Regions from separate parts of the Homo sapiens genome. Here region 2 is reported to be linked to region 1. The links are microRNA targets in miRTarBase. Many come from high-throughput screens and were not tested one by one. Region 1 holds a microRNA gene; the other region holds the end of a gene's coding sequence.
What was found. Region 1 holds the annotated microRNA hsa-miR-5699-3p (UCCUGUCUUUCCUUGUUGGAGC, at 2,178-2,199, opposite strand). A microRNA usually pairs through its seed, bases 2 to 8, with sites in the 3' UTR of a target mRNA and lowers its output. Matches are read on the target gene's strand: a 7mer-m8 pairs with bases 2 to 8, a 7mer-A1 pairs with bases 2 to 7 and ends in A, and an 8mer does both.

Region 2: miRTarBase lists TRA2B as a target of hsa-miR-5699-3p. The part of its 3' UTR that is shown has no 7-base or 8-base seed match.

What each region holds. Positions count from the first base shown.
Region 1 is chr10:639,522-642,682 of GRCh38, forward strand. It overlaps MIR5699 (microRNA 5699), which reads right to left and starts at 2,257; the gene lies at 2,168-2,257. All of the region lies in intron 1 of DIP2C (disco interacting protein 2 homolog C), which reads right to left. LOC124902361 reads right to left here. Exons shown (of 1, transcript XM_047426106.1): 1 at 1-3,161. RefSeq lists an enhancer at 201-1,107.
Region 2 is chr3:185,914,818-185,917,897 of GRCh38, reverse strand. It overlaps TRA2B (transformer 2 beta homolog), which reads left to right. Exons shown (of 9, transcript NM_004593.3): 9 at 173-3,080. The coding sequence ends at 183. Among named protein-coding and RNA genes, the nearest start is that of TRA2B, 22 kb to the left of the region's middle.

The sequences.
Region 1 (3,161 bases):
AGCCGCATATGCACATTCTCCACTGAAGCCACTGCATGAAGCCACGCTGGAAGCACTTTCTGGCAGGTTTAGGAAGCTCACGTCCAAGGTCATTAAACGCATGGCAAGCTCGCCTTGGAGGCATTTTACTTTGCTAATGACAACGAAGCATTCTCATTGCACTGAATAGTTTAGAGCAGTCTTTCATGTCCACTGCCTCTTTGAAATAGGCATATTGTGCCTGTTTTACAGATTACATCAAGGCCCTAATATATTTAGTTCCTTGTCCCAGGTACACACAAATCAGCGACATCACTAGAACGTGTTTTGGACCACGAAAAGAAGGAAAATCACAGCATTATCCATTGATGCTGCTTAAAGCGTATTTCCAGATGTCCCTCCCCCGCCCGGCCTGTATCCAAGGCTTCCGCTGACCACGCGGCATCTGCTGGGCACTCTGCGCGCTTTCTCCCACACCCGCCACGCCTGTGGGCCTGTGCATGTCCCTCCACGCATCCCCACGCGGCTAAATCTCCCACACCCGCCACGCATGTGGGCCTGTGCATGTCCCTCCACGCATCTCCACGCGGCTAAATCTCCCATACCCGCCACGCCTGTGGGCCTGTGCCTGTCCCTCCACGCATCCGCACCTACCACGCGGCTAACACACACCTCCCACAGGTGGCAAGTGCCTGAACGTCCCCACGGCTGGCGGGGCTCCCGGTGCAGGACACACAGACAGGCACGGCCGCCCCGCCCACGGCCACCAAGGGCTTTGCTTTGTCCCCAGAGGTGCCCTTCGATGGGGTCACACGGCAGATGGCCAAGTGTTAGATAATTAAGGCTCAGGAAATCACCGCAGCCTTACCTTTAGAACTCACCTCTCCCCTGCACTTCAACCCGAAGGGTGGGTCGCCAGAGCTGGGGAAGAGATGCCCAAGGCTCCCTTGCGCCCTGACAGCCTCGGACTCTGCTCCCCTCTGTTGGTTTCTTACTGCACCTCAATAAACTTAGCTCACAGCAAGAGGCGGGCATGGCCAGAGTAGAAACACACGACAGACCCCGGGTAGACGCGACGGGGGACGAGGGTGCGTGCCGGGACGAGGGTGCGCGCGGGGAAGAAGCTGCGCGCGGGGATGAGGGTGCGCGCGGGGAAGAGGGTGCGCGCGGGGATGAGGGTGCGCGCGGGGAAGAGGCTGCGCGCGGGGAAGAGGCTGCGCGCGGGGAAGAGGGTGGGCGCCGGGAAGAGGGTGGGCGCCGGGAAGAGGGTGGGCGCCGGGAAGAGGGTGCGCAGGCTCCGAGAACCTGGGGGCAGCAAGGCCGGTCAAGGCTGGAGACTCCAACAGTGGCAGCAGCAAGGGTGTTGGCCAAGCCACAGAGACAGCCCCACCCAGAGGGGCTGCATGAACCAGCAGCGACCCTAACCCAACGTGCTCATCGGACTGGGCACACGCACACGCTGTGGACACGTGTGAATATGTTCCAATTAACGTGATGCTACGTAATAATCAACAACGTTAACCCCATGGCTTCATTACATGGCATCTGGCACATTGAGACTTTTTATTCTGTCTCTCTTCCTATACAAAGAAGTGGAAAATAGGTCCAAGATCATTCACAACAAATTATTGCTAATTGCAAAAAAAAAAAAATCCTACCCTCACCTTGGAAGATCTCAAGGCAACACCTCGTTCTTTGAGGTCATAGTGGGGACGCTCTCCGGACCCCTAGGTGAGTCTGTGACTGAGGGGAATCCCCAAATGGGCAGTTTTGGGGCCAGCACGGACGCCAGCCATGCATCCAGGCAGGTCTTGTGACCTCGGCTGGGTCACCAACCTATTCCTGCACTCAGACCCCGCCAGGAACGAGGGCACCGGCCCGCACATCTCTGCTCCCGAGGCTACATCCCCTACGTTCCTCTGCACTGCTGGGTTCCATGCCTTAGATCCCAGGCACCTTAAAGCTGATGTTCCCCCACCAGCCCTCATGAAGATGATACTCACACAACGCCCCTCCTCTCCCACCTGGTCAGTACCCAGGGAGAAAGGAACCCGGGTGTCAGCTTGATTTTCTGCCAGTACATTGAAAAAACAGCTGGCCAGCAGCACTGGTGCACAGCACTGCCAGGCTACCCATGAGGAAAGCTAAGTAAAGTCAGATGTACTCAAGTCGGCTGCGGCAAGTGCTTCTACATCCCTGCTCCAACAAGGAAAGACAGGAGGCCAGGCGTGTGTGTGGCTCACACCTCTTGTCCTTCCTTGTTGGGGCAGGGGTACAGAAGCATTTTGGGGGGCTGAGGCAGAAGAAATGCTGGAATTCGAGACCAGCCTGGGCAACATAGCAAGACCCCATCTCTACAAAAAAAAATACAAAAATGAGCCAGGTGTGGTAGCGCGCCTGTAGTCCCAGCTACTCAGGGGGCTGAGGTGGGAGGATCACCTGAGCCCAGGAGGCAGAGGTTGCAGGGAGCCAAGATTGCACCACTGCACTCCAGCCTGGGCAACAGGGCGAGACCCTGTATCAAAAAAAGGAAAGAAAGAAAGAAATACAGGAGACCACTAATAATTCCAAATAGTGCCTACTAATTTGAAATCTTTTCCAGATATGATGAAGGAAATTATTTTCCTTCCTACACCCCTTCTAAGGAAACATTTCTATTTTTCTGCTACACAATTTGGTAACCTGCCCTTTCAGATCCTGGCCTCTTTAAGCAGGACTCGCTGGTGTGCTAGCAAAGCAGTGCTCTGAAACCTCAGCATCCTCAGACCCACCTGGAGGGCAGGTGAAGGATGCTGGGCCTCCGCCTCCTAACGTCACACTGGGGTGGGGCAGGTCTGGGGTGGGGCAGGGTTTGCACTTCGAATGCATTCCAGTCTAGGGCCACATCGCCCTAAACACGCCCATCTCATCTAATGCATGCCAGAGGGAGGAGCCACACGGGGCAGGTCACAGAGCAAGTGTCCAGGCACCAGGCCACCAGGTGTCTATTTAAATGCAAACCAATCAAGCAGCTTAAGTCAAACAGCTTCACCCTCCTAACACATTGGCCAACACAACTAGTGATAAATATCACTGCTGTTAGACCTTCTGCTCACTGATGACCAGAGCAAGGGCCTGAAACATCAAAGCTGAAGGGCGTGTGCCACGGTCAGGGCTCCGCACACCCCCGTCCCAGGCCATCG
Region 2 (3,080 bases), not on the chromosome of region 1:
TATCTCATTTCTGGTGTAATACTTACATGGAAGTCTTTCTCTATTTGGGGGTGGTGGGGTTCTGGCACATAGGAATTTCTTAATGGCAGAATATTCTGAAATTCTCGGCATTAAAGTATACTTGATAATTAGTTCACTTAATATTAAAGCATGTTCATTCTTTTCTTCCCAGGTCGCTATTAAAGCATGAAGACTTTCTGAAACCTGCCCTAGAGCTGGGATATTGTTTGTGGGCAATATTTTTTATTGTCTCTTGTTTAAAAAGTGAACAGTGCCTAGTGAAGTTAGGTGACTTTTACACCTTTTACGATGACTACTTTTGGTGGAGTTGAAATGCTGTTTTCATTCTGCATTTGTGTAGTTTGGTGCTTTGTTCCAAGTTAAGTGTTTTCAGAAAAGTATGTTTTGCATGTATTTTTTTACAGTCTAAATTTTGACTGCTGAGAAGTTTCTATTGTACAAAACTTCATTTAAAAGGTTTTTCTACTGAATCCAGGGTATTCTGAAGATCGAAGCCTGTGTAAAATGCTACCAAATGGCAAAAAGCAACAATAAACAGTTTGATTTTTACTTTTCTTTCTAACATATCAATGCTTAGCAGAACTATTCAGATTGTCAGTAGTAAATTTAAAGACAAATGCCCGTTTTCCTCCAGTCCATGAAACATACCATACTTATATACCTGCAACTAAGTGTTTAAAATTATGCTCTGTAACTCTGTACTGCTAGTATTAGAACTAAAAATCTTAAAATACAGCCAGTGCTTAATGCTTATATCAATGTGGATTTGTCGGCTTTTATGTAATCTGTAATATGTATAGCAGGAAATACGAAGAGTTACACAGTGTATGCCTTAAAAGGCTGTTTCTTAAAGGTGTTACAAGGGGATAATGGTATTTCAACTAGTTATCAGCAAGTGACAATACATTCCACCACAAATACACTCTTGTTCTTCTAGCTTTTAGACTATATGAAAAAACCGGGTGCTTCAAAGTACATGATAAGGGAACACTATACCTGTCATGGATGAACTGAAGACTTTGCCTGTTCATTTTTTAAATATTATTTTCAGGTCCTTTGCTTACCAAAGGAGGCCCAATTTCACTCAAATGTTTTGAGAACTGTGTTTAAATAAACGCAAATGAAAAGAAAAATGTTGGTGCAGCTGTTCACAAAGAAGTGTTCTTGTTCTATTATAATTAGAGTTCTTCTGTAGTTTAATCGTTAGGGCAGTGTGTTCCTTGGGCTGAGGTGTATCTTTGCTATTTTGGGCTGGGTTGAGGGGGGGATGAATTTCTGTATTCCTGGAAAATTCAGAGTGCATAACTAGGTATTAGAGTGATCTCCATTTGGGGATGGAGTTACAGTAAATAACTAGACTGCGGGTACTTTAATACATGTTCTTATTATTTTGCATTTAAGTAATTTTCATGACCAATTGTAGGGATGTTGCTACAGGTGGGTTATTTTGTTGCCTTGCTAACCTTTATCGCATCTAGGTATTAGTATGTTTCAGGTACTTTGGGAAGAACTTTACATATAATCTTTAGCAATGAAATGATGTAGAGTAACTTACCTTAGTTCAAATAGCTGTTTAAGTGGCAATGCCACGATCTGAATTGAACCTAGGTGATCTTAGTCCACAGTTCTCTTGATCATGATGTCTCAAATCTGGGTACCTGGGTGATGGAAAATACCAGTAATGGAGCATAGGCAGTATTGGCAGGTCTTAATTTGTAAAACTTACTGTCCAGGGTGTTTTCAGTGTTTGCCAACTTGTGGTAAATTAATATGCTTAGAGAACTACCCTTAGGTTTGTTTCTGATAAGCATGTGGAAACAACTTAGTATATGCCTGATGGGTTATTTCAAATTGTTCTCAATGAGTTTTGAAACAAGAATTTGTAGTATTTATATATAAAGTTGAGTTTTAGGGTGTGGTCCCAGAGGGGGTTGTGTTATGGATGGATACATTAAAGGCTGAGAAACCTGGTTTTATCGTGGTAGTATATACAGGCATCCTTTCCTGAAGTAACTACATTCTCCACCATTTTCTCCCCAACCAAACCTCTCCCCATCAGTTAACTGATGGCTTGCGAGTTCACACTCCTGATAATCTCGAACATAACCCTCGGTTTCTATCCTAAAGCCTGAGTTTTAGCCCTTTAGTTGTGTAGCCATCCTTTATCCTGCTGATTGAAAGTTTCCTTTTTTAGGCTAGTTTGAGTTGTTTTCTGGCTTTTAGATTTGAAAGAATTTTAGCCATTTGACATGGCTACAAAGAGTGTTAACAGGCAAAAGACTGAGGAAAATTTGGAATTTTACCAAGTTGAGATAGACTGAGAAGTAGTGAGACAAAGTGGTAGTCTTTTGATGTGCTGTAATGCTAGTCGCCAGTTTCATGAAAGGGAGGCAGCAGTTACCCGTAGGTAACCCCTAGGTAACTGCTGCCATGGGCAGCTGAATCAGACAAAAGCCATGGGAAAGGATAAATTTGAGTCTTAAAGTTACTGCCTCAAGGCAAAGGGACTTGGAGGCTTTTATATGCCAATACAAACAATCCATTTCTTATAGCTGTAGGGCTGAGACTACTAAAACCAAATGTAAAGTTCATTTGGAAGATTGCTAAGTTAAATAGTTTTATACTAGGCTTTTGTGAAACTTCTCAGGAAATCAACAGGGTCCCAGCAAGTGGAAATAAGGCTGTGTCAAAAGATTTGTAGACCTGGGAGCAGGGGTTTCCGATCTCCTGGCCATGGATTGCCTGAGCTCCGCCGCCTGTCAGATCAGCAACAGCAGATTTTCATAGCAGGAATCCTATTGTGAAGTGCGCTTGAGAGGGATCTAGCTTGCACATTTCCTTATGGAAATCTAACTACATGTTAGAGAATGCTCAAGGTCTGCAATGTTTACATTGTTGCCCCTACATAAGGAATATATGCCTTAAGATAAAACTAATAGCTCTTAGCCCTCTTACACCATTGACTAGGATTCCAATTCTGCAAGGCCCAGGAGGAGAAATTGAGAATTAGAAGTTTCACCGAGAAGAAATAAAAAGATTTGGTTTGCATTATCAAAATT